Regions from separate parts of the Homo sapiens genome. Here region 2 is linked to region 1. The links come from fine-mapping of genetic effects on gene expression. A gene starts in region 1. The other region holds a variant in brackets. All regions are shown on one strand. Distances are from middle to middle. Region 1 holds the start of KCNH5 (potassium voltage-gated channel subfamily H member 5). Region 2 has its middle 56 kb from the start of KCNH5.

Evidence for each region.
Region 2: its variant is fine-mapped to the expression of KCNH5 in testis (GTEx, PIP above 0.99).

Annotation. Positions count from the first base shown.
Region 1 is chr14:63,037,489-63,053,141 of GRCh38, forward strand. It overlaps KCNH5 (potassium voltage-gated channel subfamily H member 5), which reads right to left and starts at 7,970. Exons shown (of 11, transcript NM_139318.5): 1 at 7,626-7,970. The coding sequence starts at 7,698. RefSeq lists enhancers at 7,231-7,734, 7,735-8,238.
Region 2 is chr14:63,093,622-63,109,274 of GRCh38, forward strand. No RefSeq gene overlaps it. Among named protein-coding and RNA genes, the nearest start is that of KCNH5, 56 kb to the left of the region's middle. The variant T/C (reference allele first, on the strand shown) is at 8,426.

The sequences.
Region 1 (15,653 bases):
TTTATTCTGAGACTCTTTAACCCCCATTGAGGAACTCCTCTATTTTTTCAATGCTTGTAAATGTATAAAAATAAAATCATTGTGCTTTAATTTTCCCCCAAATTTAAAAAATAAAAATAAATGCCAGCAGACCAAAAAGGGCTTACAGAAAAGATCAGGACAAAGGTTAACTTTTCCCCTCAATCCAAGTGAGTTGTTCGATTTTTAGTTAGATATGGCAACCTGAGGCTGGCCCTGCAGTCTCTAAAAATCTAAAACTCATTTTCCTCTTCTGCTGCATACTGCACAGGGCTGTAAGCTGCTCCCCAAGGCAAAACTCACTCAGAAGGTACTTAAGCAGGTAAGGATTGATTCCCAGGGATAAAACTCACCATCAATAACTGCTAACTGCAAAGTTGTTAAAATAATTTAGTTAGAATCTACAAATTTTTAAGCAGTTCTTTCTGGTATTAAATAGTCCAGCTTTCAAGCTCTTGACAACTGAAACAAAAATGGTAGAAAATATTTCAGCCGCACCTCAATTTGGAATAGGAAGTGAACATGGGATCCATTTCATATTCCTTTCTCATCCTCTCAGAAGTACCATCTGATTTGCCCTATGCAGTGTGGTTTCTGTTTTCAGATATATGCATTGATTAACTAAATAGTTTAAACTATGTAATTACTTATTCAAGCTCACTTAATAGATTTAATCAGCATTGGCTTGGGGAAAGAATTAATTATGGTCTTGGTTACTTTAGGAGACAAAAATCAAAAAAGCATTTATTCAACGAATACTTACTGCTATGTGCTCTGCACAGTGGAGGACATAAAAGTCTTTTTAAGATATGACCCATATCCTCAGGGAGCTTAGTTCATATACCAAAATTTTCATGACTTCCCAATTATATGTCCTTATATCTACAAGCTGTTATGATTATGCACATAAGCTCAGATCTCAAATTGCGTATCTTTTGAGATCCATATGACTTTGTACTTAATAGTTATATTTCTGTAATGGGACCAGACCCAAAGAGAGAGGGAAATCTATTTTCAATAAAATTTCCAATAGCTTTCTAACCACACTTTCTTTCTAAATTACTGTGCTCATTAATTTTCCTCTTTTTTCTTTTGTCAACCTAATATATCACAAAACTACTATCTAGAATGTATATAAATATGTCTCTTTACTAGGTAATAGTATCCACATATAACCAAACACTAAAATGATGTCTAAAATACACACTGATCTATGTGACAATAGTTATTACTGCCTCCATTTGATCAAATATATTTCAAGACTCAGCCTTTCTAATATATTAGTTTCTATATTATATAAAATAGGAATATTTAAATGATTCTTTTTAATTATCTTTAAATGATGAAAAGGACTCATGTCATGTATTATAAAGCTAGACTATTTAGTGGAAAATGCTGAGGATTTTTTTACATTCTGCTTTGCTATTGGTAAAGGAATTTGTTTCATAAATGTCCATTTTCTAGAATACTTTCTAGAACACTACTTTCTTTGACCTCAATTTCCACAACAATAATTGCCACTGGTTTTGGATTGTGATTTGTTATCCATGTTTATCTGATTCACAACACGTCTCTTGTATTTATAAAAGTACTTTAAGACATGTTTCAATTTTTCCCATTAAAACCAAAATTGTGTGGAACATTTCAAAGTATCTCTTGCTATATGGTTTCTAACCCACCAAAAAGAAAAAAGAATTGCCTTAAACCAAAATTCAGATTTACTGACTAAGAGGAAACAAAACCTCTTAAAACAGTCTACTCCCAATCCTGTCTTTTGGAGTTTAATAATTTAAAAAACTTTGAAAATATTATTTAATAATTTTAAACAATTTAGCTCTGTATTTAATTTTTAAAATTTGGGTAAAAATAAAATACTAGGATTACATAACATCCTGAGGAAGTAACTATAAATCTGTAAACTATCTTTTGATAAAATTAAAGCACTGTTATGAACTGATTCTACTTCACCAATTCAATATAAATTATATAAAGATGTCTCATAGAGAAAAAATCTGTTGAAGTGGCTCAATATGAAGCATTATGTACAGGTCATTTTTCTGCAAGACTTTATATTTCATATACTGTATGTATATGAAATGCTGAAATTGCGTATTACCATAAAATTTTATCTGCTAAAGAAAATGCTCTATTAGTCTAAAATGTATTTAAATCCATCTCTTTACAGAAACAATTTTTATCAGTATCACTTTCGTGTAGTTATAAAATGTTGATCACTGTCAACTAAAATAAATTCTAATAATTAATATAATACATACCTTTTTTCATTTAACTTTCCTGCATGTCTTACATTTTAGATATTTTCTTCCAAGAGCACCAACTAACTACATTGACTCCCTCCCAGTCAAATTTGGGGGGTGGCAAGCAAGGTGGGGGAAGGGGGAGGTGGGAGAACAGAAAAAGAGAAAAATATTAACTACTTGGTTCACCTGTGACAGAACCCAGAGTGACCTCTTGTGGTAAATACTAACTACAGTACTTTGGTGAACAGCACAACCTTTTCCTAGGCTACACTCTGGAGAATGCAGAAGCATTGTTCCTCCAAGCTAAGAAACTCGGCTGTGACTCACAAGGAAAGAAAAAGATAAACACTGACTAAACTAAAGGGCTTCTTTAGGAAATCTACTCAGTCGCTATCAATTAAAATAATCATAACTACGCCCTTCTATTAAAAATAATGTTTATATGATCCTTTTAGTAAGTCAGTTACAAGGTGCCTAGGTAGATGGATGTCTTACACATCCTACTTCTGGAATCAAGCAAAAGATAAACAAAGAGGGCAATTTCTAGTGAAGATAACAGTATCTTAGAATAAGCATCCCTCTATCAGCAATGTGCTGCATTCATTATATAACACAGTGTGGGAATCTAATGCAAGGGACAATCTTGTGGCTTATGTATAAATATAATTTAGGAAGTGGTCAGTATAATTTCAACCTCTTTGATATTTTAAATGTTAAAGTGGTACATTATAAGACCTGAGTAAACCAGTGCTTCAAAAACACTGTGTGGTTTTATCAGTATTTCCTGAATAGTGTCTTAGATATTAAAGAAAACCTTTCAAGAAAAAATGTCAATAACTTTATAACAACAACAACCAAAATAATGTCCATTTGTTTTCCATTATTTCTTTTAAATTGGCTAATTGTAAAAGTTATTATTCCTTTTTTGTTTTGTTTACAGATCACTAGTTCTGCTTCCTCTCTTATAGGTTTCTTTTAAGACCTCAGTTTGTACAAATGTCAATTCAGCATGAAAATAATTTTGGACTTTTCTACAAGTAAGAGATAGCTGAGTAAAAAAAGTGCTTGTGCAACCAGCTATCTCAAGCAGAATGAAAAATTGAGGATACTGAGTTTCTTCTCTTGAAAGGTAAGTGGTTCATAAAATACTACCTTCTCTGTTTTCTTCTTTCCTGAACCCCTTTTTTCCCCAAAAAGAAAAACACTTCTAGTTTTCCACAAAACTAAAATAAACTTCCAATTTGTCATAAAGCTTAAAATATTAAATAATAATAATTTCTAGTTAAAAGGTATTAATTTGTAGTTAAAATTTTCAAAATAGCAACCTAGCTTACTGTCACTCAAACTAATCATGTCTGCCTATTTGCTAAGGAATTGAAGACAACATATGAGTAAAATGTGCTGCCCAAAGACAAAATCAGGTTGAAGGTCTTTGAAATATTTTTTGTCTTTTGAATCTAAATTTTAACCTAAAAGTCCTAAAAACAGTTACTTTCTTCCAGATACTTAACCTCTACCCACAAGTTTATTGCTCCCTAGAGCCCAATTTAGATTAATAGTTTGCATAAATAATTGAAATTTAAATAAAGGAAGGTATCCTAATAATGTTCTAGACACAAATCTAGTCTGTAAGCCCTTGAGGCAGGGGCCTTCTGGGAGACATTGCTCAGCTGTAATGAACTCACCACATAGTCCTCTAAACCTTCCCTTACTAATGGCTTATTTTGATCGTACTAGCCAAAAGTTTGTCTAAGCCGTCCTATAGCATTTATACTTTAAACTTTACAACTTCTTAGAGTAATAATGTTCTCTATATTTACTAGAATCACATGCTAAGAATTATTATAATTCCTTTTGTCTAGAAATGATCTTATCTTTTATCTTTAAACTAAAAAGAATTCCTTGCTTCTTTTGAGATTTGGCTATAAAGGGTGTGTGTATCCATCCTACTCAATGGCCCTCATTATTTTATTTTATAGACTTTGAATCACCAGTAACAACTTGCAATGCTCGCTTATAACAGACTGAGTCAACTAAATAAGGAAAATAAAAATCCAGTCTCAAGAGGTGTGAAATAATAGCATAGGTTATAGTTGCCACTCTGGAGTACAGAATACAGTGCTGGTATTCTGGGAAACTGCATCTGAGGAGTTTGGAACTTTATTAAGAAATCCTCAGGTATAAAATTGATATTCAAATATGCCACACTTCTTGCTTTTTTGTTTCACATCATCAAAAAAATGTTCTGGTAAATTTGTAACTGGCTGAGATTTCAGTTCATTGGTGATACCCATGGACAAATAAATGTCTGACATTTTCTCTTTGTGTCCATTTCCCTTGCATGTCCCATAATCTCTCTCTCTCTCTCTCCCACCCCACCCCTTTCTCTCTGCTCTGTGTGTTTTGTTTTGTTTTGTTTCCTACATCTCTGTTTTGCTCCTTGTGTGCAAGACAGAGAAAAAGAGTTAGATTGCTTCCTCTCTGTCTGTAGGGTGGTGGACACACTTTACAGACAAATCCTAAAAAAGAAGAAGTAGGATATTCCTCTTTTCAGTTTTCTGGGTGGATGCCTGACCAGCTGAGTGTTTACCTATGTGACTGTGTATTATCTGGGTATCTCTCTATATCTATGTCTATGTTTGGCTGACTCTCACTGTAAGATCTGACCTTTTCATAAGAAGAAAATGGTATTGTATCAGAAAGAGCTTTTCTTGGGGTTCAGGTAAAAAGACAAGGCCAGCCTCTGTTTCTTCAATTGTTAAATAGATTGGGAGTGCTGGGTGCTATTCTTTCTCTTCCTGCTAAACCTCTGCCAACACTTCACTTTCAATGTTGTTAAGTTAGTGAATAATGAAACCTTCAAAGTGACAAACCTGATCCATCTGTGAGAATCCTGAAGGGAATTTTCTATTAGTCTCAATTAAACAATTTCTCAGGATAAATTTTTCTATTTCTCTGCCAAATCATATAGAAATGACAACTGCGGGATATTCCCCCGTGAATGTGTAGACCAATTTAATACCATAATTCTCAATTTCTGAGGTTCTGCCTATAAAAGAGGTACTGAGACTTTTCAGTATTTATCACACACACCTGCATATATACTCACTACAACTATCTAACACACTTCAAACAGTTCAGGGTCTTTGAGTAGTGGTATTCAAAGTTAGCCATAGGCGATTAGAGGTGGCATTTAAGTGCCAAAACAGATAAATTTTCATTTTCACTTGGTATTGTCCAGGAAAGAAACATTTAACCAATGAAACGATTATGAACATGAAGTGTAAAAAAGATAAAATACTCATTAATTTGAGTGGTAGATACAAAATGGAGGCAACAGAAACAGACATTTCTAAGCCACCTAAGGTAAATCTTTATTTCATAGTATATCTACAATTTTTAAAAATTCAAAAAACTATCTCATAGTTTCATAGTCTGCATAAGAAGCTTCAACCACAGTTGCTATATTAATAAAGTTTAGTCAAGGGATTCTCATGTTCTTTCTCTTTATAAAGCAGAGCAATCGTAACCCTGCAGATTTTATGTTTTAAGGCCTTCTCTGAAAAGTTCTCTCATAGACCAAATTGCGTGAAGTTGAAATAACCCAAGAGGATGAGAAAGCTGAAAGAAGACTTGTATACTTAACTAATTCCAATAATCCACACATTTTCCCCAAACTGTTTTAAGAGTAATATCCCCTTGTATTATAGGTTTAGTATAATCTTAATACAAGAAGGTAATCTATAAGAATAAAAATTGCCTACCATTATGAATTTATATAACTAAAAAATATACAGGTATTTAAAAGAATATTAGGCCAGACCCTATTCGCTATTTTTTCCGACCCAAATACAACACTACTGCTTTAGACTTTTATTGTTTCAGGCATTGGCCAAAACGAAGAAATAAAGTTTAAAACCTCAAATTAAAAACAAATAACAAGTCAGATATTTGGGGAAAATACTTTGAAACACTTAAATACAGTTAGTCTCAAAATCAGAGGAAATATTTACAAGCCTAGTCTTAAAAGAGATTCTAATCTAAGAATTAGTATAATCTAATCTACCATTTAGGGAAAGCATTATTTATTTAATTATTTGATATTTCAGTGTACCTCTGTCTTTCCCTGTGCCTCCAACTAGGCAAGGAGCCTCTTAAGAAGAGGGGATGTGTATTAATTACTTTTTTTTAATCCCAAGAAACCACAGAGTATCTGTGGTATAAGGCACCCAAATAAATATTGTTTCAATGAATGAATAAACAAGGCACTATGGAACTGCATAGAGTATTTCCATTGCTTTGTTCCAAGCTCTACTGTACTCCATATACAGAAATGTCTTTCTCATTATTCTCCAAGCAAGAGATGTCAAAATAACAGCCTCTGAAGGAAAAACTTAAAAAGATATTCAACATATCTTACTTATGAAGTTTAAAATTATACAAAAGAATTAAAAACAAGTAGAAAACGCAGATTTCAGTAAGATGCAAAGTTTATAAGGTCTTAAAATGTGGAAATATATAACCATTCCCATCCAAAATATCTTGTAGGAAATGAATGTATAAATGGATGGTATTTTAAAGACACACTAAGGCAAGAAAACTTTAACGCCAGTAGCAAGGTAGGATGGCATCTTTTTGATTTTTTTCTAGTTGCATTAAAAGCACAATAGTTACTGCTTCACTTCTACGTTTCTCATGTTTAAGTCAAACGAAATATATAGATGAATGTACAGTGAAAAACATAGCAAGAAGAAACTTGAAGCACCAATTTGTCCACAGTAATTGGCTTCCCATTTTGCAAGCACTGAACTCTTTCTTAGGTTCAACCTCAACTACTCTCCCCGGCACAAAGCACCTTTCCCCGTGACCACGAGGGCCAAAAGCCTTTCCAGAGATTTAAATCTTGTTAAGTAGCCACTTTCGCAGCCATTCCCAACTTGAGGGAAACCTTTCCACTGAGATTAACTCAGAATTTGGTCAGTCCCTGCTGCTCACTTTGGGGAAAAATGTGGGAGAAGGAAGAACAAGAAAGATAAAAGCAAAACTCAACTCTATGTTCCAGATGTACCTACACCCTATCCAACCCCTTTCTTTCCTCCAGTTCTGGGCTCTGGACAGGTGGGAGGGGGTGAGTCTGTCTGGTAGGAAGGGGATGCAACTAACTTTCCCCCACCATCTCATTGCCACCCCACCCCACCCCAAATCCAGCCCAACTGGTAAATGAAACCACCAGGTAAGGCTGCCTGCATCCTCCTCCCCCCTTGGGAGAGGGATGGGATGGGGAGGATGGGGGGCGCGTGTGGGCGGGATGGAGGTGGGGGTGTTCTGAACTACAACTCTCCTTACCACTGGAGCGCCTGACGATGTTCTCCAAAAATGTGTTCTGCGGTGCCACCAGCCCTCTCTTGCCCCCCGGCATCCTGGGTCTGGAGAGCAGCGGCCAGGATCCGCGGCGGGGGAGGGGGGGATGCAGGCAAAGAAGGTGGAGGAAGAGGAGGAAAAGGTGGAAGAGAAGATTGAGCCGAAAGAAGAGGGGGCGCGGCGGCGGCGACGGGGTCCCCTGACTGTGTCTCCAGCCCGACCCGGATGAGCAGCTCTGGGGAGGAGGACCAGGCAGTTCATGGTAGTAGCGCTCCCCCGGCCGCCGCTGCCCAGACTGTGGCGGTGCCGCACACGGGGCTCGGGAACTGCAGGCTCCGCGGGGCACAGTGCGCCTGCGCCGCCCCCGCTGTCGCTGTCCCGCCGGTGCTGATGCTGAGGCTGCTGCTGAGGCTGCTACCGCGGCGGCCGGCGCCTGGGCGCGGGCTCTGCATCTCTCCCCCTGCTGGGGAGCGCAAGCGGGAACTCAAGCCCCCACCCTCCCAATCCCCCTCAGCTCAGACCGAGACCCCTTCCCCGCGCCTTCGTCTCCCGGTCTCCTCGTCCACCCCCTCGCGCAGCGAGCTCCGGGCTGAACAGCGTAGCCCAACTTCTGGGCTGTGCGCCTGGTGGTTGCTCCTCTCCCCGGAGATCGAGGCAAGCGATCGCTGTCCAATCGGGCCGGTGGAATGGGAGAAGAGGGTGCCAGAGAGAGCAGTGGCCAGTCGGAGGCTCACATCTCGGCGTCTCCCGCTCGGGTCCCGAATCCGGGCTGCTGGCGCGGACGCGGCTCCCGGGGCGGAGGTGCGGGCAGGCTCCAGCTCCAGCCCCAGCCGAGGCTGAGAGCAGGGCAGGGACTGGCTGGGCGGCGCGCGGGGACGCAGAGCAGCCACCTGACGCTGCTACCGCCCCCCTCCGGGCTCCGGCGCCTGAAACCTTCCTGAACACTGGCGCTTTCCGCACCGCCCTTACCCCACCCCGGAGCGGGAGCGCGAGCCCTGAAGTCCGAGCGCACAGCCGGCGCCCGGAATGGCCCCTGCGACCCGGGCCGGGCTTGGCGTCTGGGGGAGCGTGCGGCCGCCCAGGGGAGTTTCCCCCAGGACCGCTGAGCGCAGGAGGCGATCCGCGAGCCCGCCACCGCTGCAAAGTTGCGGGAAAGGTTGCACTTGATGTGAAGAGTAGGGGAAGAGGGTGAATAATTCACACCCGAGAGAGGGGGAGTGAGGAGGGCAGTGTTAGCGATGGAAAAACGGTAAAGGCTGTGGGGGCGAAGATGCGCCAGGGTGGAGCAGGGCACGAATCACCTCTAACAAACCCCCCAATTTCCAGGCGTTGAGAACGGACAGCAGCGGCACCGTTACAAACAGTCCAAAAGCCTGAATGTGTCACAGAGAAAGGAAAATGGCATAAATGCGAAAGGGGTGGAGAGAGATGGAAAGGAAAGAGGAGCCCGCACTGAGGCACCTTCCTTGATCTAAGGCAGTGGTTCTCAAAGTGGCCTGGACGGGCAGCATCCGCATCTGCACCACCTAAGAACTTGTTTATAATGCAAATTAGTGGATTCTACCCCAGAGTTAGGGAACCAGGAACTCTGAGGATTGGGTTGACTCATCTGTTTAAACAAGCCCTCCAGGTAAATATGATACATGTAAGGCTTCCTCTTTTCTCTGGGGGCTGCACCTGGGCCTGTCGAGAAAGGACGATTGTGCAAACAGGGTCAAAGAGTGGGGGACCAAAAGTGCACTGCCGCGGCGTCAGCGGTTGGTGGTAGAGCGAAGTCTTCAGTGTTGAAGGCGAAAAGATAGTTGGATGGGTGCGTCCCCTTTTGCTGGGGTCAGAATGTGCTAGAGGAGAGGTAATTGCGTTAGAAATTATCAAGGTCAGATTACCAGAAGCAGGGAGAATCCCCAGGCAGGGGTGGAAGTACACATCTCAGCACCTGTCCCCTTTTGGAACCCCCTAGATTACTAATCACTGACCTCAAGACAGGATCTCTCTCTCTCTGTCTGTCTCTGTCTCTCTCTCTCTCCCTCCTTGCCTCCCCTCCCCTCCCCTCCCCTCCCCTCCCCTCCCTCTCTCTCTCCCCTTCTCTCTCCCCTTTCTCTCTCTTCCCACCTCTCTCTCTCCCCCCACCTCTCTCTCCCTTTCTCTCCTCTCCCCAACTGGGTAAGCCTACTGCTTGAAGCAGCTAAATGCAAAACCAGGATCCAGCCTTTACCTTGGGGTCATTTTTTCCCTCTCTGAAATTTTCAGAGACCAGGCAGCTGAGCAAACCCAGAAGGTTGACACGAGGCAATTTTATTCCGCTAAAAATCTTTATGCAAAAAAAAAAAAAAAAAAATCAAGAGACTCGGTGGAATAACACTAGGCTATTCTAGCTTTCCACAGGAAGTGCTGCTGGCCATGGAGCTTATCCCCTTACAGTTAAAATGTCTTTTAAATACATCAGGTGTGTTTAGTTAAATAACAAGAGACTCAGGTGCAGATTGGATCCGTAGTGAGCTTGCCACAGCAGCACTCAAGAGATACGGCCAGGTTACAACTCCCTCCCTGCAGTTGGTGGGAAGAACTGAAACCACCATCACCACAGCAGCCTTAAACACATAATTGAATTTCCCACTCTAGCGATTCTTTTGTGACCTGTGTTCAAATGATCCTAAACTAATCAGTCATTCATTGGCTGGGTTGGTGAATAGACAGACTTATTTTTTAAACATGTATAATTCATTGATTGCTATTCTAGACTTCTAGCATGCTATAATAATTCCATCATCATTAACAGAGAATATTTCAAATCTATATGTTCTTTTGCACATCGTCAGCTGCCCACATCTCGCCTATGGGTATTGATTTAAAATCTCAGGTTCTCAGCATTTCCCATCTAGTATATATATTCTTGTTCCTAATCATTCCTCTGTGGGTGTATTAACTCACATTTCCCAAAGAGGAAATTCTTTTGGACTCCATTAAGACACAATCACAAAATTACTGGTAGAACTTTCTTATTCCCATCTGCAGATTCAATTAAATGACATTTATCCTTTCTTCTTTGTTTCTAATAACTCCATAGCATTATAACGTTTGGATTATTTTAATGATCATAAAAAATGTAGCTGTGTAGTGTCAAAAGGTTACACACTTTTCTTAATCTTCTAGTTTAAATTTTCATTTTATAAAGGAAGAAACCAAGACCCAGAGAGATGAAATATCCTGTCCCAGATGACACAGTGCTTTAGAACAGTCTGCACTGAGACTAAAATCAGGTCTCCTGACCCTGTAGCCAGAGCTCCTTGTAAATAATAGAAAATAACCTAATCTTAGGCTAGTGTGGTAACAACCAGCAACATCAAGGATCTCTATTGCCATCGATGATTTTGCAGCCCATGAAAGAAGAGAAACCCTTGGCAACAACTTGCAACTGTTCCCAATCAAAATAGAGTCAAGGAAAATAGAGTAGCAGCATCATATAGATTGACTGGCCCTAAGGAATATGCTGGCCAGTTGCAACAAGGTGCTAATACAGCATTTTAAAAGTGTGTTACAGACTCCGTATGTGGGGAACAAACCTCAAGATTTAACAGATGAGAGAGATAGGAATTAGAAAGCTTCAATGTCACACAAAGACAAAGCTTCGTTTTGTTATATTGTCAAAAGTCCATTTTAAAACAGAATCATTTGTTCTTTTCTTCTGTCCCTCCAGGTATGGTAATTAGACCTTGTCTGTGATAACCAAGAATTCCAATCCCCAGAAGTGTTCACTGACTCCTAAATCACAGCAGAATGGAAGCTGGCTGAGTGAACTGCAGGTGTGTTCTAGTCTAACCGAAACCAATATAAACGAGAAGGCTTAGAAAACTGATGTAGGAAGTGATGATTTGGAATTACTACTGATTCACTGAAGGACTCTTTTATCAAATACCCCTCCTCTGAAGATTTTCTAATATAGTTTACTTGACAGTAGCTGTAATTATATGTAAATTTTCAAAAATGCATTACAAATAGGTACAGTTGGACTTACTCTTTGATCCCTTTTGTGCAAATGATCCAAGCACTACTTTCTCGGGAAATTTTTATCCTGTTTCCTGCTTTCTGTTTCTGAGCAAACCTCAGTACAGCTCCAAGTTACAACCTGTATGTAGATGCTAAATGGGTGGCTCTGATGGAGGGATGGGAAGAAGGAAAAAAGGAAAGGGGCAAAAGTGATTCCCTATCATGGCCTCCAAGGTTGGCCTCACTAGCAGCAGCATCACTCCATTCCATTTTTAACTCCCTAAACTTCACTGCGTGCCTTTCCACAAAGCCCTATCCCAGCTCTAGCAGTGAAGCATACAAACATCACTAAATTTCTTTGCATGCACCAAATCTCACATTTACACCCATATCTTCTACCTTTCCTCCTTTCTGCTCCCCCCAACTCAGGATCGAAGTTGAGAGAAAGCAGACTAGAGAGACCTAGTGCTTGGACTGTGGACCCAGACTACCTAGAATTTAATCTTGCCTCTCCCACTTACTAGCTATATGACCCAGGGCAGGTTATTTAAGCACAACATCCCTTTCTATAAAATGGGGATAATAATTACCTATTTAATAGTGCTGATATGGAGATTAAGTTAGTTCCTACTTGAAAGCAATGCAGACAATATCTGACAGGTAATAAGCACTATGTAAGTGTTTGAAAGTAAATACATGAGCCTTTTCCTCCCCTTCAACTTTCATTTACAGTGAAGGCTCTAGATAGTGGTCACTACTAAGGTTCACCAATATCCAGTTGCCTTTTCCTGCTCCTTGAAATCAGTGTGGCTATGCAACTAATGCTGGTCAATGAAATAGGAATGGAGGGAAAGGGTGTTACTTCCAAGTGAGCATCTAAGAACCAGGACTTATTTTCTCATCTTCCTCTTCCCCTGCCTCAGTGACTAGGGAATGCCAAGAAATACAAGGAGAACACCTGCCCAAAAGTGTTACCTAGACCTCAGTAGACATTATATAAGCAGGAAATAAACCTTTGTTGTGTCAAGATACTGACAATCCAGCACTATTTGTTACTGTGCCATAACCTAGTCTATCTATCCTGGCTGGTACAGGTTATTAACTTGCTTTGGGAACAGGAGATCAGAGGAACAATAATTCTCCATCCTGACTGCACATTACAGTCACCTGGAGACTTTGTAAGAATCCCAAAGCCACAGCCCAGACCAAGTAAATCAAAATTCCAAAGGATGAGACACAGGCATTACTATTTTTTTTTAAAGTTCCCCAGGTGATTTCTTTTTTTCTTCTTCTTTTTTTTTTTTTAAATGGAGTCTTGTTCTGTCACCAGGCTGGAGTGCAGTGGTGCAATCTCGGCTCACTGCAACTTCCGCCTCTTGGGTTCAAGCAATTCTCCTGCCTCAGCCTCCCAAGTAGCTGGGACTATAGGTGCCCACCACCAAACCCAGCTAATTTTTGTATTTTTAGTACAATTGGGGTTTCACCATGTTGGCCAGGATGGTCTTGATCTCTTGACCTCATGATCAGCCCGCCTCGGCCTCCCAAAGTGCTGGCATTACAGGCATGAGCCACTGCACGCGGCCGTGATTTCTATATGTATCAAGGTTTAGAACCACTGACCTAGAACAAGGCTGCATCCTATGGGAATCTCTGGGGTTTCAATACTGTATGAAAATCCTCAGCTCCCAAGGATCATACCTTCAGTTTCACCTCTCCCACAAAGGCTCTATTACATGCAGCTGTGAGTTTCTGTGTACTTGTATCTGCTGAGCAGCCCAGAAGAGAACCACAAAACCTCCCAGACTAATGCACCATAAATTGAAGGCCTCCTAACTCAACTTGACCTTCTCAATACAGCCCAATCCTTCTGTACATCCTGATCAGCTGCATTTTCCATTATCTGCTGTAGCTTTCTCAAAGCATCTTGTCTCTTTTCACACCTCAGTCATCACTTTTTCACCTCCCAGTCTCAGAAGATCACTCGTAGAAAACAGGTCATGATGTCAATTCTTAGACTTCCTGCCATTGCTCTCTCTTCCTTTTCTTCTTTCTTCCAAACAAATAGAAAGCAATTTCTCTCACCATCCCTCCATCACTGATCTGGATCCTATTCATTTGGGCCTCTGGAGACCTCATTTTGCTGACTGTCCCCTCATTTCTCACTTTGACATTTAACATGCTTTAAAAATGCTTTCTTAACTTGTTATTTCCCTCAAGATTTGGCTCTGTCTCTCCTATCTCTTCATGGTCAATCTTCTGAGAAGTCTGTGATAGGTGTCTCCACTTTCTTGCCTCCTATTCACTCCTTAACCCCCAACAAATTGGCCTCCTTTCAACTGTTTTCCTGAAGTTGCCTCCCCAAAGGTAATTTTTAAATTGCGAAATCCAGTGAGGCAATTTCATTGCTAATCTACTTTACCCACCTATGACGTTTGAGCCTATTACTAATCCTTTCTTCTTGAAACATTCTCCTACCTTAGACTGACTTGTTTTGAATACTGATGCTGTAATCTCAGCATGCATTTTCATTAACCTATCTGTGCCTCAGGGTTTTTTTTCTGTAAAAAAAATTAATAATGCCTACCACATATGGTTGATGTAAGAATTAAATGAGATAGTACAGGTGGAGAATCTTGCATCCAGCTTTCTGAAATAGAAAACTCTGATATCCTACGGGTTTTTTTCATAAATTTTTTACAAACTCATTTGCCAATAAAACCTGACCTGAACTGTTAGGTGGCTATTTGTACTCTTTTTTTTATCCCATCTGCTGTGGATATTGACCATGTCTTGCTGCACAGATATTCATGTGTTTGAAAACAGAGATTGCTGCCCCTAACCCCAGTGAGACAGATACAAATACATAGAAATCCACAAATATCTGAATTCCAAAACACAGATCTTTTTCCTGCAACTGTAGATACCCATACCCATGGACTGACTGGCAATTCCACGGGAATCTCTAACATATTCAAAACAAATGAATCATCTTGCAGCCTGCCCAAACTCTCTCCCCCTCCAGTGTTTCTTATCTCAGGAGCTACCTCTATCCACCCAGTTATCCAAGTTAGTAACATCAACACTTCTCTACCCCCGACTCCACATCCAGTCCTATTCATTCAACCTCCCAGATATCTCTTTAAACTATCCACCTCTCACTCTCTCTGTTGGCTCTGCTCCAGGTCAGGCCCCGTCATTTTTTACTTGGATTTCCACATCAGCCTTCCAACTGGTCTCCCTTCTTCCTGTGTTTTCCGGCCATACATAGTCCTCTCTATTTTCTTCTCCAAGCTCCACCACAGTTCATTTTTCCCCCTGCACTATAGCTAAAGTGATCTTTCTAATGCATAAATCTGTTATGTCATTTCCCTGTGTAAACACTTCTAAGTCTCTTTGCCCCCAGGTGAAAGCTCAAAGCCCTTACCTGGCCTTTTTATATCCTTCCCTATCTGACTCCTGCTTATCTATCCAGGATCAACTCTCATCATTCCCCATTCCAACCCTCCACCTTCATACTTCCTCCCTCCCTATGTCCCTTTGTATTCCTTGTGCTTACTATGCTGTCTCTTTCTTCCTCCACCAATGTCCTGCATCACTAGCCACTAGCCACCTTACTTCAGACACTATATGAGATGTCATTGCCTTCAAGAGGCCTTCTTTGACTCTCCATGACCTGGTAAACAGCCCTTCCTTCCTGTAAGTTCTTCTAATACCACTCTATGCTTCCTCTGTTGCAACATTGTACCTCACTCTTTGCATCTCAATGTTGTTAAGACAAAAATAATAATAATAAAAAAGAAAAGATTGCAAATACAGTTGAAATCTTATGTATCTCTTCACCAGAACTGCCACTAGTGCTTTTGGCATCTTCGTGAGAATTAGGAAAAGAAGTCCCTTCTGGCCAGTCATAGGGCCAAGTCACAGCACACCGATTGATGAGATATTTGTGGGCTGGATTTCAGCCTCTATTTTTTCCCTTAATGGGTGTGCTTGGTGGGAAGAAGGAGGGAGCTTTCTAGCTGACAG
Region 2 (15,653 bases), 56 kb after region 1:
AGCTGGTGTCGGACGTGCTCTGTGTTGGTTGTGTAAGAATAGAGACTAAAGAAAGAAAAAACATTTTGGTTTGGTTTATCATATATCCCTTTAGCCCCACCTCTAAATTCAAATCTAAGTTTTGTCATCTACTATTTTGTTTACTTTTGAGCTGGAACAACTTCATAAACCTCTCTGCTCCTTGTTATTTTTTTTTCACTTGTAAAATGAAGACAGTAATGGTATTGCCTCATAATATTACTCTATGGATTAAACAAGATAATCTAGATAATACACCTAGCACAGCACCTAGCAGCTACTCAATAAATGTTAGGCCCCTTCATCTAAAGAGAATGGAAGGCACTATTAAGTTCACAAAGGTTGAGCTTTGCAAGGGTAAGTAGGCCACCAACTTGTATTTGAAAAAGTACTGAAGAATATATAGACAAAAACATACAGCAAGTGCCTGGAAAACCATCTAGAATATTTAGAAACCCAGAATAAAATTATCCAAAATTGAAATAACCTCTGGCTGTCTTCCTATGAAGATGAATTATAAGTTTCAGTTGAAAATATATCTTTCTTAGGAATTTATCTCTGAAATATTTGCTTTAAGGCATGGATTTAAAGAGTTTATATTTAATCAACTTGAAACATGCAGCATAAGCCCCTCTCAAATTCAAACAGGAACACATGGAATTTATCTGTAAACATTCTTATAGATAGATCAAAGGAAGAAGCTATTCTACAAAGTCACAATATTGAAAATAAAAGAAAACTGAGAAAGAATATGATGGTGCCTTTAAGTGTTTCATTTTCCAGTTAAGTATGACATTCTTTAGGGGATCATGTAATTATCAAGCCAGGCAGTGTCTCCAGGCTATTGTGAATCTTTTTGCACTCAGGCCTGAACTGACTGAAACCATGTCAAATAGCTGGGGCCTCTATCATTTTGAAAGAGTGCTGTTACAACTTCTAGAGGTTCACAAATTTAATTCATAGCAACAAAAGTCACAGAACAAGCTCCCTGAAAATCATCTGAAATAGGTTGAAGTCAACTGAACAAAATAAAGCCAGTACTGGTATAGGCATATTTTAAAAGCCATTTTTCCTATAAACAGATTCAAGGATTATACCACATTTAACTTTCCAGACAGATGACTGGCTTTGGTCTTCAGGGTGCTTTCTTTATAGCAGTGGTCACCGACCTTTTTGGCACCGGGGACTGGTTTCGTTTCGTGCAAGACAATTTTCCTATGGAGGAGAGGTGGTTGGTTTTGGAATGAAACTGTTCCACTTCAATCATCAGGCATTAGTTAGAGTCTCATAAGGAGCACACACCTTAGATTCCTCGCAGGCACAGTTCACAATGGGGTTGTGCTCCTATGAGAATCAAACACTGCCACTGATGGCATGGAGGCAGAGCTCAGGTGGTAATGCTGCTGGCTCGCCACTCACCTCCTGCCGTGCAGCCTGGCTCCTAACAGGCCACAGACTGGTACTGGTCCATGGCCCGGGGATTAGGGACCCCTGCTTTATAGAATGGTCACAGATAAGGACAAATATGCTACCTGGAGGACCATCTGAATCACACAAACTACAAATATGGAAGCCAAGGAGTGGTAAGATGATAGTCTGCAACACTATCTTAAGTCTAAACTGGAGTCTTGACGATAGAACAACTTAAATCAGATAAATTCCATAAAAGTAAACAAATTGTTGGCATGACAGTCAATTATGAAGAAAGACATTTCAAAGATCTGAACACACTGAAAAGACTGACACACCAGAGACTGGTCCCGGGTATGTGATGTAGCATCGAGGTTTCTCTTTCTTTCCACCCTTCATTGGTAGATATAACCCTGAGAAATAAAAAGGAAGCTAACTGTGGAAGCTAAATGTTTAAAAAAAAATTGCTTTTACATTGTGAATTTTGATACAACGATTCCATTGAGTCCAAGTAGAGATGTTCTAAAAAAATTCAGAGTATTCAGAAAGTGATAGAAATATTTCTCCAATAATAATTATTATTTTAATAATCATTTAATATGAATAATTAAAACAACTTATATCTGTATTTTGCACCCCATTTGAAAACCTACTTTAACATTCATAATCTCCCTCAAGCTTTCCAAAAACTCCATGTGTTAAGCATGATGATTCCCATTTTACAGATGAGGAAATGGAAGCACAAGGAATTAAACTTGACCAGGACAACACAGCCCAGCAGACCTTTGATGTTTTCTAGCCTCACAAAAATATCTGAATGACATAGATTTTATTTATATATATATATATAAAACAATTTCATTTAATAATATAGCATAGAAATAAAATCACAAATATACACACAAAAGTGTAATAGAAGTAGAACACTCTCATCAGTTCTTTGGGGGAAAAGTGGCCATATAAGGCCACAGAATAATTATTATTATTCGTTAAGGGAAAATAATTATTCTCTGGGGATATTGAATTTATTCTAATATTAATACAGCTTTAAAAAACCCAAAGAATTGTTTATTGTGTGGAAGCAGTGCGGATTATACATAAGCTAGGAACCTCTGGGAAGTATGTTTGTCTTGGTATATGGCTTTTTATTTTTTTTTAATTCATTGTTTTTGTTTGGCCCAGTAATTACACTTTGAAGTTCCATAGTACAGAGAAGATGTAGCAAGAAAGCGGATTTGAATAGGTTTTTCATTGTTTCTCATAAAGACATGATTTGTAGTTACACTGTTTTCTTTTACGGTGTTTTCACATGACCAAATCCTCCCTTCCAGAAAAGAAACAAAATCAGCCAAATTGCCAACATTCTTCACCTCTGCCACCACTCAAGACAGCTTATTTGCATGTTACAGTGAAGGCTCTTATTCGCTCTTTTTCTCCGGAGCCTTATCTTGAATCTAGACTATTTCATTGAAATCTTAAAATAAAAAGATGTAATATCTCTAGCTCTATTATTTTGATAATGACCATCCTATAGAATTTAGTGCACACTTGACACTTTGTTCTTTTCTCAAATCACACTGTAAAACAACCTGAAAGGTTTTTTTCTAATTATTCATTTAACAACTGATAAAACATCTCTCTAGTAGAAAGAATATGCACCTAGTGGAATTTCTCCTTATCTACAATTAAAGTCACCCTCCATTGCTAAACAATGTAACCAAGATTCTGCAATACTAAGTAGACTCTTCAGATTCAAAGGACCCATTTGAAAAATTAAATTCTCTAATACAGCCTGAGTAACACCTGAGCAGAAGCGGAGATGCAAAGAAAAGAACATTTCTAAAGGGAGCTGGGGGAAAGGAAGACACAAAGTGTTGGTTTTCTCATCTTTGAACTGAGCCTTAGAGATGCCCACATGCCAGGAAGAAACCAACAAAACACAGAAAAGCAAAAACCAGGAGAAATCTCTAGGAAGATAGAATCTGGGACCCAGGAGTGGTAGGAAATGGCAGCCAAGAGCACAAGAAAGTCAGGCACTATGGATAGGAAAAAGGCTGTGAGAACCTATTTCCCTCCAGACATGTTCTGGATGTTCAATCAGTAGGACCACCTTGGGAATAGCCAGCTGCACTAGCAAGCCAATAACTCCAGGATGGGCCAATCTCTCATCACCACTCCCCCAAACTGTATAGCCTCCTAATTACAGCTGTGGGAGGCATCTGTTAGAAAAGAGTAGCGCCTGAGTCGAAGGTACAGGGAGGTTCCCTGAGGGGCAGGATAAATTGGGATGGCTTCAGGCAGAGGAAAACAAACGGAATTGTTAATATCAGAATGTACTGAAGAATTTCTCTACCCTGAGGCATACCCTTCTCAATGTAACCAGAAGAGAAATAATAAAGAGGAGAAATTAGCGTAATAAAAACAAAAAAGAGCCAGGTGTGGTGGCTCATGCCTATAATCCCAGCACTTTGGGAGGCGAAGACGGGCAGATCACTTGAGGTCATGAGTTCAATACCAGCCTGACCAACATGGTGAAACCCCATCTCTACTAAAAATACAAAAATTAGCTGGGCACGGTGGCAGGTGCCTGTAATCCCAGCTCAGGAGGCTGAGGGAGGAGAATCGCTTGAACCCAGGAGGCGGAGGTTGCAGTGAGCTAAGATCGCACCACTGCACTCCAGCCTGGGTGACAGAGCAAGACTCCATCTCAAAAAAAAAAAGATAAAGATAAATCAATGAAACCAAAAGTCAGTCAATAAAATTAATGTATTTCTAGTCAGCCTGATCAAGAACATAAGAGAGAAAACTATCCCTATCAGGATTGAGAAAGGGAATATAACCACAGTTCCTACCCACATTTAAAAGATAATATGTGGATATTGTAAACAATTTATGCCAATAACTGAAAACTTAGATCAAATGGTTGAATTACTTGAAAGACACACACTTCCAAAGTTCATCCAAGAATAATCTGAATAACTTAATATTTATTATCTACTGAATTTGTACTTCAACATTTTCCCCGTAAAGAAAACTCCAGACACAAAGGAATTTACTGGTGGGCTGTGCCAAATATTTATGGAAGAAATAATCACAAATTCTTCCAGAAAAATAGCTGAAAAAGGAACACTTCCTAAGTCATTCTATGAGGCCAACATTAGCATGATATCAAACCAAACAATGCAAGAAATGGAAATTATAGACTAATATTCCTCATTAGCATAAATGCAAAAAACTCATAAAATTTTAACTAGTTGATTGCAACAATATAGAAAAAGGAAAGGACATCATGACCATGTAGCATTGTTCACAGAAATGCAAAGATGGTTTAATGTCTGAAAATCAATAACTTCAATTCACTGTACAGGCTGAGTATCCCTTATCCAAAATGCTTGGGTTCAGAAGTGTTTTGGATTTCACTTTTTTCTTTTTTTTTTTTTTGAATTTTGAAATATTTACAGGTACATAATGAGATATCTTGGGGATGGGACCCAAGTCTAAACATAAAATTTATTTACGTTTCAAAAACACCTTATACACATAGGCTGAAGGTAAATTTATACAATATTTTTAATAGTTTGGGCAAGAAATAAAGTTTGTGTTAAGTACTTATGTGTGGAATTTTCCACTTGGGGCAGGGCATCATTGTTGGCACTCAAAAAAGTTGCAGATTTTGGAGCATTTGGGATTTGGGATTTTCGGATTAAGGATGCTTAACTTGTATTAACAGAATAAAAAGGGAAAACCATATGATCAACTCATTAGGTGCTAAAACAAATTTACAAAATTCAATATTAATTTGTGATAAAAACTCTCAGCAAACTAATAGAGAAGAGAACTTTAACCTGAAAAAGAACATATATGTTAAGCATGTAGGCAAAATCATAATTAATGGTGAAATTCTGAATGTTTTTATCTCTTCCTCTAAGATTTTAAGTAAGTAATGAATATCTGCTCTCACCACTTCTACTCAACATTGCACTAGAGGACCTAACAAGTGAAATAAGTTTTAAAATAAATACAGATTAGAAAGGAAAATTTAAAACTGTCTTTTAATTACAGAAAACATGATCATGTGTGTAGAAAATCCTAAGGAATCATTGTCCCTAATTCACAGGTGAGGAGTCAAACATTTTTTAAAGTCTTAAAATCTGCTCAGAGTCACACAGATTCTATATTTTCATATCCAATATTCAAACCCAGGTCAGGGTGGCTCCAAAGATTATCCTCCAAATATGATCTTCACTACCTTTTCTAGAATTCCCTTTGGGAATGCTAACAAGCAGGTATGACAGCCAAGTGTAACTCAGATGCACTTTGAGATTAGGAAGTCACCTTCTTGATCACCATCTCCCACTCAGTGTTACCTTGCCCATACTCCCCAGGGATTCTCCATATCTGAGGTAGGATGGGGAAAGACAGATCATAAAAGAGGTTGCCTTTGTCTTTTCTAGTCACACTCACTCTGCCCTTCCAATTCTGTATCAGAATAAACGTGACCCCTTTTCTTTGATTTCTACACAAAACACAAGGCAGGAAGGTTGAGTAGTGTACTGTGTGAAAAACAAAATATAAACAGTAGGTATTCCCTAAAGACTTCATGCTTTGCTTCTCAAGCTGTCCTCTGGAAATTCAATTCCCCTATTTAATTTGCAGAACACTGTAACTCTATGCTACCTATGGCTTGGCTTGAGTGTATCACTGCTGTTCTAGGGCTCATTAATGTGCTTTGCTGAACAATGGATCAGCTTCTCTAGGTTCCCTGATGTAGCTGTCCAGAAGAGCAGGAGAGAGCCCCACTTTCTTCTTTGTCCTTTTTTCTCCCCCATTAGAGGTTTATTTCTCTCACCTATATAAATTGTTCTACGTACTTTAAAAGTCTAATGTTGTTCATTATAGTTTGTTTTATTTTTTTAAAAAAAGACTTTTACTACTAATAATACCTTAATTACTTATACTTTAATCACCGATAACCTACTAATAGGGTAATTACACAGAAAACATCAGTCTCTTTGAATGGAGGTAGCAAGAGATGCTCTTACTAATTAATTCTCTGGGGTGCTAGCAAGCCAGTATAGTGCTTAGGTTATAATGTTTTGGAGGAAAAGTATCATATTCATCCTAGACCCTGCTATTAATATACTCTCAGGTTAATACTTTCCCACAAAAGCTTTAGCAATAACAATTTAGTAACGAAGAGGCTAGTCTATGTTTTAGCCACACTGGATGAGTGGCAGTTCCAGAACTTCAATTCTAGAGCCACCACAGGTAGTAGGAGGGCCCTGGGTTGTGAGGCCAGCTCAGAGGTGTGGCTGGAAACTGCCCAGACCCTCACTTGCAAGTTACAAAGAAAACCAGGGAAGGAAAATGAGCTCCTTTGAAGCAGAGAGAGGGAAGAGAAGAGCATAGGGCAGAGCCTTGGAATGCACTATTTCCGCAACGCAGAAAAAGCTAAGAACATTTCTACCATTTTTTAAAGAAAGGACTTAAGTGGTTCCTAAAACTGAGATCAATGTTTTACATAAGTTCAGCATTTGTGGCTGCTGGAATTTTTATATCTGATTTCTGCTTTCCTCCAAACGATAGTCTCAGAACATTTTCTGAAATCTCAGAGGTAAAAGATCAAGGCAAGCCAGGACCTCCAGCATTTGTTAAAATGTTTTGTGTAATCCATTTGGTTTATTCTGCTCCAGGGCAGGCTCATTTTAATCCTCATATGCAGTCCATTGTGACCCTTCTGCCCACAAAGATAAGAGGAGTAAAGCTTTTACAATAATGTAATATCATATCTGGAAAGGATTCCACAAATCCTGTGGTAAGATTGCAATGAAAAATCCAATTTAGCAAAAGCTTTACACACAGACATGCACACATACAATGCAGTATACCTCCAATCTCTGAAGCTCATGGTAGGGAGGGGTGGGCCAGGGGAGAGACAGAAACCTGTATTCTCAAAAACACACCACTTCAGAATGCAAGTCTTACTACTGCAAAAATTGTTTAATATACATCGAATAAGTTATTACATGAGTACTAAGATCTTTAGACTCTTTTTCCCATTTGTTCTGAATCTCAGACTAGCAAGATATAACTTTTTTGGTTTATCTTATAAATCTCAATTTTTTCTAGCAGAAATGTCTAGCTTTGACAAACCCAATTTTGCTTTCTGTTGCCCTTTAAGATATGTTGTTATGGTTTCAGAGAAAATTCCAAAATATTTCTGATTTTTAAGCTTACTGCTTTATGCTTAACAGTATTATCCAGATTTAATGGAGAATTAATAAACAAACACAAAACCAGTATGATGGTTTGCTAACCAACAGCAGTACAGTTAAAAGCAGTTTGCTTCCTCTGGGCAGATTTTGACCAACATTATCACAATGACCTTAGCCTATAACGGAAAGTGATCAGCTTCCCCCAAAGCAGCCGCCCAACTACCTGCTCAGGCTATTAATCTCTTTTCATTACCTACATTTTTAATCTACTTTGTGTGTGCTCCTTGTTTTTTGGGCAGGAAATGAGATGCAGCAGTAAAGCCGTGTCCACCAAAGAAGAAAAGAAAGTGCCGATGGTGTGTGGGGTGGGGGCGGAGGGTTGAAACGAGGACCTACCTTGCTTCCTGTGAGAGCTAGAGTTGTATAAAGAAAATCTCTTAGATAAAATTCTCTCTTGTCCTTGGAAAGAGCACACTGCTTACTCTATAGTTAATTCTTTCACGAAACCATTATTTGGTAACATAGTTAACCTTACCCTGATTAATCTGTTTCAAGTGTGAATCTTTATGTGTTGGATTTTGTTGGTGTCTTTCATTTGCTCAAAAATTCAGTCTTCGGCCGGGCGCGGTGGCTCACGCCTGTAATCCCAGCACTTTGGGAGGCCGAGGCGGGCAGATCACAAGGTCAGAAGATCCAGACCATCCTGGCTAACACGTGAAACTCCGTCTCTACTAAAAATACAAAAAAAAAAAAAAAAAAAAATAGCGTGACGTGGTGGTGGG[T/C]GCCTGTAGACCCAGACACTCGGGAGGCTGACGCAGGAGAATGGCGTGAACCCAGGAGGCGGAGCTTGCAGTGAGCTGAGATCGCGCCACTGCACTCCAGCCTGGGGGACAGAGCGAGACTACGTCTCAAAAAAAAAAAAAAATTCAGTCTTCATCTCTTTCTGATTCCACCACACCCTCTCCTGACAATTTCAGTCCTTTCCCCTTCTTTTGCACAGAAAACAAACTCACATATTCACAAAAGCTTTCTTTGTGCCTTTCATTCTTCACCCACCCTTCTTTGGAACATCTTAACTTTCCACGTATCCTGACTTTAAATTCCACTGGCTTCACATTCCACCTTGTACTGTAGTTATTAGTTGGAGTGTCTCATTTCCCCAACCAGATAATCATCTCAAAGGCCACAGCCCTTTGTATCATCCAGAGTGTACATAATAGGTTCTTAATCGTTATTTGTTGGATTTGAATTATTTTGTTTCTCTCATCATCACTCAAGCTTCTTCTGACATTTGTGCAAGCAAATGAAGTTACAACATAAAATCTAAAAACTCTGTGTAGCATGTAAGACTGATCATATAGTTGCCTCTGAATCAGCCTTTTTTCTAAGTATTAATCTCTCTCATCCACTCCCAACTACTAGCCCAACCCATATATATTTTAAGCCACGTTGATTAAATAACAATCTACTGTATTATTTTTAAAGACCTAATCGTGTCACCTTAGGCAGATTCCTTGTCTTCTCTATTATAAGTGTTTATTTCAGTGACTAATTATACTTAACTAATACTGGTTTCTTTTTTCATCTTGTAGTTCTCCAGACCAACACTATCTCATGCTTCTATGCTTTTGTACATTCCTCCCCTTCTTGGAATACTGCCCTGATTCCTGCTAACTCCCCTCTCATTCTAATGACTCTAAATTTAGAACTGTAACCCCAGATTCTCTCCTGACCCCAAAACCATACATCCAACTGTTTATTTGGCATCTCTGCCAAGAGACACTAAAAGTCTATGGCATTGGTCCAGATAAAATATTATAGTGGCCTGGATTAGGACTGTAGCTGTGAAGATGAGCAAAATAAGTAGAATTTGGGATGTACTTTGAGAGTTTTGTCAATAGGAGTGTCTGTGACATGTAGATGCAGGTTAGTTCACATTATTCAATGCCCAACATGAGACCTAGAGCACAGGCTCAATTCTCTGTTAACTTTGCTCCTTTTTATGGCTAAAGCTCTGGTGAAAGACTTCATAAGCATACATCTCGCAATCGCATGTATTTAGTTGTCAGGCACAGAAAGCTGGACTACAAATCACAAATCTGTTAACACTGATTCAGTATTAGATAATTTAAATTCTTTATCTCCTGATAGGCTTCTTATTTTTAAAAGATCCAGGCTTGCACCTCCACTTTCCTTCTTAAAATTTTCACTTGAAAGTCTCACAGTTATCTCATACTTAACATTTTCAAAACCAAATTCTTGTATCTTTTTTCTCTTTTTTTCTATTTATTTATCTTTATTTGGATAGTTTTAGGGGAACAGGTGGTGTTTGGTTGCATAGAAAAGTTCTTCAGTGGTGATTTCTGACATTTTGGTGCACTCATCACTTGACCAGTGTACACTGTACCCAATGTGTAGTCTTTCATCCCTCACCCCCTCCCACTTCCCCCCCCCACCCCGAGTTCCCAAAGTCCACTGTATCATTCTTATGCCTTTGTGTCCTCATAGCTTAACTCCCACTTATAAGTGACAACACAGGATGTTTGGTTTTCCATTCCTGAGTTACTTCACTTAGAATAATGGTCTCTAACTCCATCCAGGTTGCTACGAATGCCCTTATTTTGTTCCTTTTTATGGCTGAGTAGTATTCCATGCTTATCCACTTGTTGATGGATAGGCATTTAGGCTGGTTCTACATTTTTGCAATTGCAAATTGTGCCACTATAAACATGCATGTGGAATTCTTGTATCATATGCTACCCCAGTTTGCTTTTTCTCCAGTGTTCTTTATCTCAAAAATTGCACCATCTTCTACCCAGGGCCAGAAATTTAACAATTATCAGTTTAACAATTATCCTTCCCTTACTCCCCAGGTCCAATTGGTTGTGACATCCTAATAATTCTACCACCAAATTATAACTTGAAGTCACACAGTTATCTCCATTTCTGTGACTACCTCCTAGTTCAAACCAATGACATCTCTCACTGGACAATCGTAAATAACTGCTTTTATGCCTCTATCCTAGACTTTCTTCAGTGCATTTTCTACACAGAAGCCAGAGAGTCAATTTAAAAAATGCAAATCTGTAACATCTCCTTCATTTAGAATTCTTCAATTCTTTCCACCGTTTTTAGAATAAAGTTCAAAATCCTCAACCTTACCTACAACACCATGCACAGTTTTGCCTCCACCTCTCTCTAACTGAGCCTCATAACTCTCTCCCCCTTACTCACTATGCTCCAGACACACTAAGTTTCTCTCTGTTTTTACTACATTCCTTGATGACAGCTCCTTACCTGTGCTCTTCTCTACTGTATTCTCAGCACCTAGGTAACACTTTGCATATACATGTTCAATTAATATTTATTAAATGTATAAAAGAATGAATGGGTTTTCAGGATCATAACCTTTATGCCAGAAGAGGAGTTGAAACTATTATGATCCTTTCAGCTGCAAGTAATGGAAGATTCAACTAACAGAGGTCTGAACAATAAAGAATTTTATTGTATCAGACAACTAGAAGCCCAAGAATAGAGCAGCTTTGGGCCAGTTATTTCAGCTACTGAATAACATCTTCAAGACTCCAGCTTCTTCCCTTCTCTCTTCTGTGCCATTCTCAGTATGCAATGCCTCCCCTTATGGTCACAAGAAAGCTAGAACATTTCAGATATCATAGTCAATGATGACAGCCAACTAATAATAGGTGTGTTTTCCCCATGCAGCTATTTTCAATAATGAAAACAAAAAAAAGCCTTTCCAGAAACTTCTCAGAAGAATTACCCTCAGTTCTACACACCAAAAGTGAGTTACACGTTCTATTCATTCCTAAGCAAATCACTGACAAAGGAAATGAAACCACCACGACTGATGTAGACCAGTTATGCCTTGAAGCTGGGAAGTTCGCTTTTCTTAAGCAGTGAAAGGAAAACAAGGAAACCAAATCAGAACTTTGCCAACAATGAAAAGTCGAACAGTAGGGAGAAATGAGAAATGCAATTGACAAGAAAAAGACTATTAGACAACCAAGAGTGTCAGCCACAAAAGAACATCATTGTCATCATCATCATCATCATCATCATCAAAGTTCAAAAATAGTGTTGGCCAAAACACACTTCTCTATTTAAGTGAATTATTAGGACTTGAAATTATTTAAATAAAGACTTAAATAAAGACTTTAAATTAACTAAAGTTAATTCTAAAAACATGTGTTGAGATAGCATAATATTTCAGGGCATAGATTGTGGTTACATGTGGTTACACTTGACCCCACTTCAACCAAAACATCTATACTTATTTCTGTTTAAAATATTGAGACTCACAAAAATATTTCATTTGAAAAAAAGGGTTCTGGATTCTAGGTGAAGGTAACAGCTAATTAGAGAGAAATGCTCCAGCATTGAGAGAAGGCAGCAATCGCCCTGTTCTCCTCCTCTCTTTAACATCCCTTCTCCATCTGTTTGCGGCCTCCTCTTCTACCTGTTCTTTCAATGCTGATGTACTACAGTCTACTCTTTCCATACTTTTTGTCTCATGTGTTTTCTTTCTTCAGCTTCCACTACCAATTTTTTGCTAATAAATACAAACCTCTAAGCACTCCTCTCCTGAGCCTCAGATTTGAACTAGCAAAGATTCAATGGTTATCTCCAACTAAACATCCCACAAACACCCCCAAATTCACCTAGCTAAAAATTACACCCAGCACCTATTGCCTTCCCACACCCCATCTGTACTTGTTCTTCCCTGGGTGTTCCCAACATCAGTAAAATGTCTCCCCATCAACTTCGCGCCCAGAGCAGAAACCTGCCCAGTCATTGTCCAGTCCTCTCTCTTCCTCACTGACACATCAGAAAGTTGTCAATATTGTCACTTCTAACATCCAAATTTCTCTCACACCAACTCCTTTCCACTCTACCCCCTGCACACTACTCTCATCATTTCTTGTATAGTTTTTTCTTCTTCTTAAAAAATATTATTTTATTTTATTTTATGTTCTGGGATGCATGTGCAGGATGTACAGGTTTGCTACATAGGTAAACTTGTGCCATGGTGGTTTGCTGCACCCATCAACCCATCACCTAGGTATTAAGCCTCGCATGCATTAGCTACTTTTTTAATTATTATACTTTAAGTTCTGGGGTATGTGTGCAGAATGTGCAGGTTTGTTACATAGTTATACACGTGCCATGGTGGCTTGCTGCACCCATCAACCCATCATCTACATTAGGTATTTCTCCTAATGCTATCTCTCCCCTAGCCCCCCACCCCATGACAGGCCCCATTGTGGATGTTCCCCTCCCTGTGTCCATGTGTTCTCATTGTTCAACTCCCACTTATGAGTGAGAACATGCGGTGTTTGGTTTTCTGTTCTTGTGTTAGTTTGCTGAGAATGATGGTTTCCAGCATCATCCATTTCCCTGCAGAACATGAACTCATCCTTTTTCATGGCTGCATAGTATTCCATGGTGTATATGTGCCACATTTTCTTTATCCAAGGTATCATTGATGGGCATTTGGGTTGGTTCCAAGTCTTTGCTATTGTGAACAGTGCTGTAATAAACATATGTGTACATGTCTTTTGGTATGTATCTTTGGGTATATATCCAGTAATGGGATTGCTGGGTCGAATGGTATTTCTAGTTCCAGATCATTCAGGAATTGCCACACTGTCTTCCACCATGGTTGAACTAATTTACACTCCCACCAACAGTGTATAAGTGTTCCTATTTCTCCACATCACCTCCAGCATCTGTTGTTTACTGACTTTTTAATGATCGCCATTCTAACTGGTGTGAGATGGTATCTCATTGTGGTTTTGATTTGCATTTCTCTAATGACCAGTGATGATGAGATTTTTTTAATATGTCAGTTGGCTGCATGAATGTCTTCTTTTGAGAATTGACTGTTCATATCCTTTGTCCACTTTTTGATGAGGTTGGTTGTTTTTTTTCTAGTATATTTCTTTAATTTTTTTATAGATTCTGAATATTAGCCCTTTATCAAATGGATAGATTGCAAAATTTTTCTCCCATTCTGTAGGTTGCCTGTTCACTCTGGTGATAGTTTCTTTTGCTGTGCAGAAGCTCTTTAGTTTAATCAGATCCCATTCGTCAATTTTGGCTTTTGTTGCCATTACCTTTGGTGTTTTAGACATGAAGTCCTTGCCCATGCCTATGTCCTGAATGGTATTGCCTAGGTTTTCTTCTAGGGTTTTTATGGTTTTAGGTCTTAAGTTTAAGCCTTTACTCCATCTTGAATTAATTTTTGTATAAGGTTTAAGGAAGGGATCCAGTTTCAACTTTCTGCATATGGCTAGCCAGTTTTCCTAACACCGTTTATTAAATAGGGAATCCTTTCCCCATTTCTTGTTTTTGTCACGTTTGTCAAAGATTAGATGGTTGTAGATGTGCGGTATTATTTCTGAGGCCTCTGTTCTGTTCCATTGGTCTATATATCTGTTTTGGTACCAGTACCATGCTATTTTGGTTACTATAGCCTTGTAGTATAGTTTGAAGTCAGGTAGCGTGATGCCTCCAGCTTTGTTCTTTTCACTTAGGATTGTCTTGCCTATGTGGGCTCTTTTTTGGTTCCATATGAAATTTATAGTAGTTTTTTCCAATTCTGTGAAGAAAGTCATTGGTAGCTTGATGGGGATGGCATTGAATCTATAAATTACTTTAGGCAGCATGGTCATTTTCACAATATTGATTTTTCCTATCCATGAGCATGGAATGTTTTTCCATTTGTTTGTGTCCTCTCTTATTTCCTTGAGCAGTGGTTTGTAGTTTTCCTTGAAGAGGTCCTTCACATCCCTTGTAAGTTGTACTCCTAGGTATCTTATTCTTTTTGCAGCAATTGTGAATGGGAGATTTCACTCATGATTTGGCTCTCTGTCTGTTATTGGTATATAGGAATGCTTGTGATATTTGCACATTGATTTTGTATCCTGAGACTTTGCTGAAGTTGCTTATCAGCTTAAGCAGATTTTGGGCTGAGACAATGGGGTTTTCTGAATATACAATCATGTCATCTGCAAACAGAGACAATTTGACTCCCTCTCTTCCTATTTGAATACGCTTTATTTCTTTCTTTTGCCTGATTGCCCTGGCCAGAACTTCCAGTAGTATGTTGAATAGGAGTGGTGAGAGAGGGCATCCTTGTCTTGTGCTGGTTTTCAAAAGGAATGCTTCCAGTTTTCGCCCATTCAGTATGATGTTGGCTGTGGGTTTGTCATAAACAGCTCTTATAATTTTGAGATACGTTCCATCAATGCCAAGTTTATTGAGAGTTTTTAGCATGAAGGGCTGTTGAATTTTGTCAGAGGCCTTTTCTGCATCTATTGAGACAATCATGCGGTTTTTGTCATTGGTTCTGTTTATGTGATGGATTACGTTTATTGATTTGCGTATGTTGAACCGCCTTGTATCACAGGGATGAAGCCAACTTGATCATGGTGGATAAGCTTTTTGATGTGCTGCTGGATTCCGTTTGTCAGTATTTTATTGAGGATTTTGCATCGAGTTCATCAAGGATATTGGCCTGAAATTTTCTTTTTTTGTTGTGTCTCTGCCAGGTTTTGGTATCAGGATGATGCTGGCCTCATAAAATGAGTTAGGGAGGATTCCTTCTTTCTCTATTGTTTGGAATAGTTTCAGAAGTAATGGTACCAGCTCACCTTTGTACCTCTGGTAGAATTTGGCTGTGAATCTCTCTGGTCCTGGGCTTTTTTTTTGGTTGGTAGGATATTAATTGCTGCCTCAGTTTCAGAACTTGTTATTGGTCTAATCAGGGATTCAACTTCTTCTTGGTTTAGTCTTAGGAGGGCATATGTGTCTATGAATTTGTCCATTTCTTCTAGATTTTCTAGTTTATTTGCATAGAGGTGTTTATAGTATTTTCTGATGGTAGTTTCTATTTCTGTGGGATCAGTAGTGATATCACCTTTATCATTTTTATTGCATCTATTTGATTCTTCTCTCTTTTCTTATTTATTAGTCTGGCTAGTGGTCTAT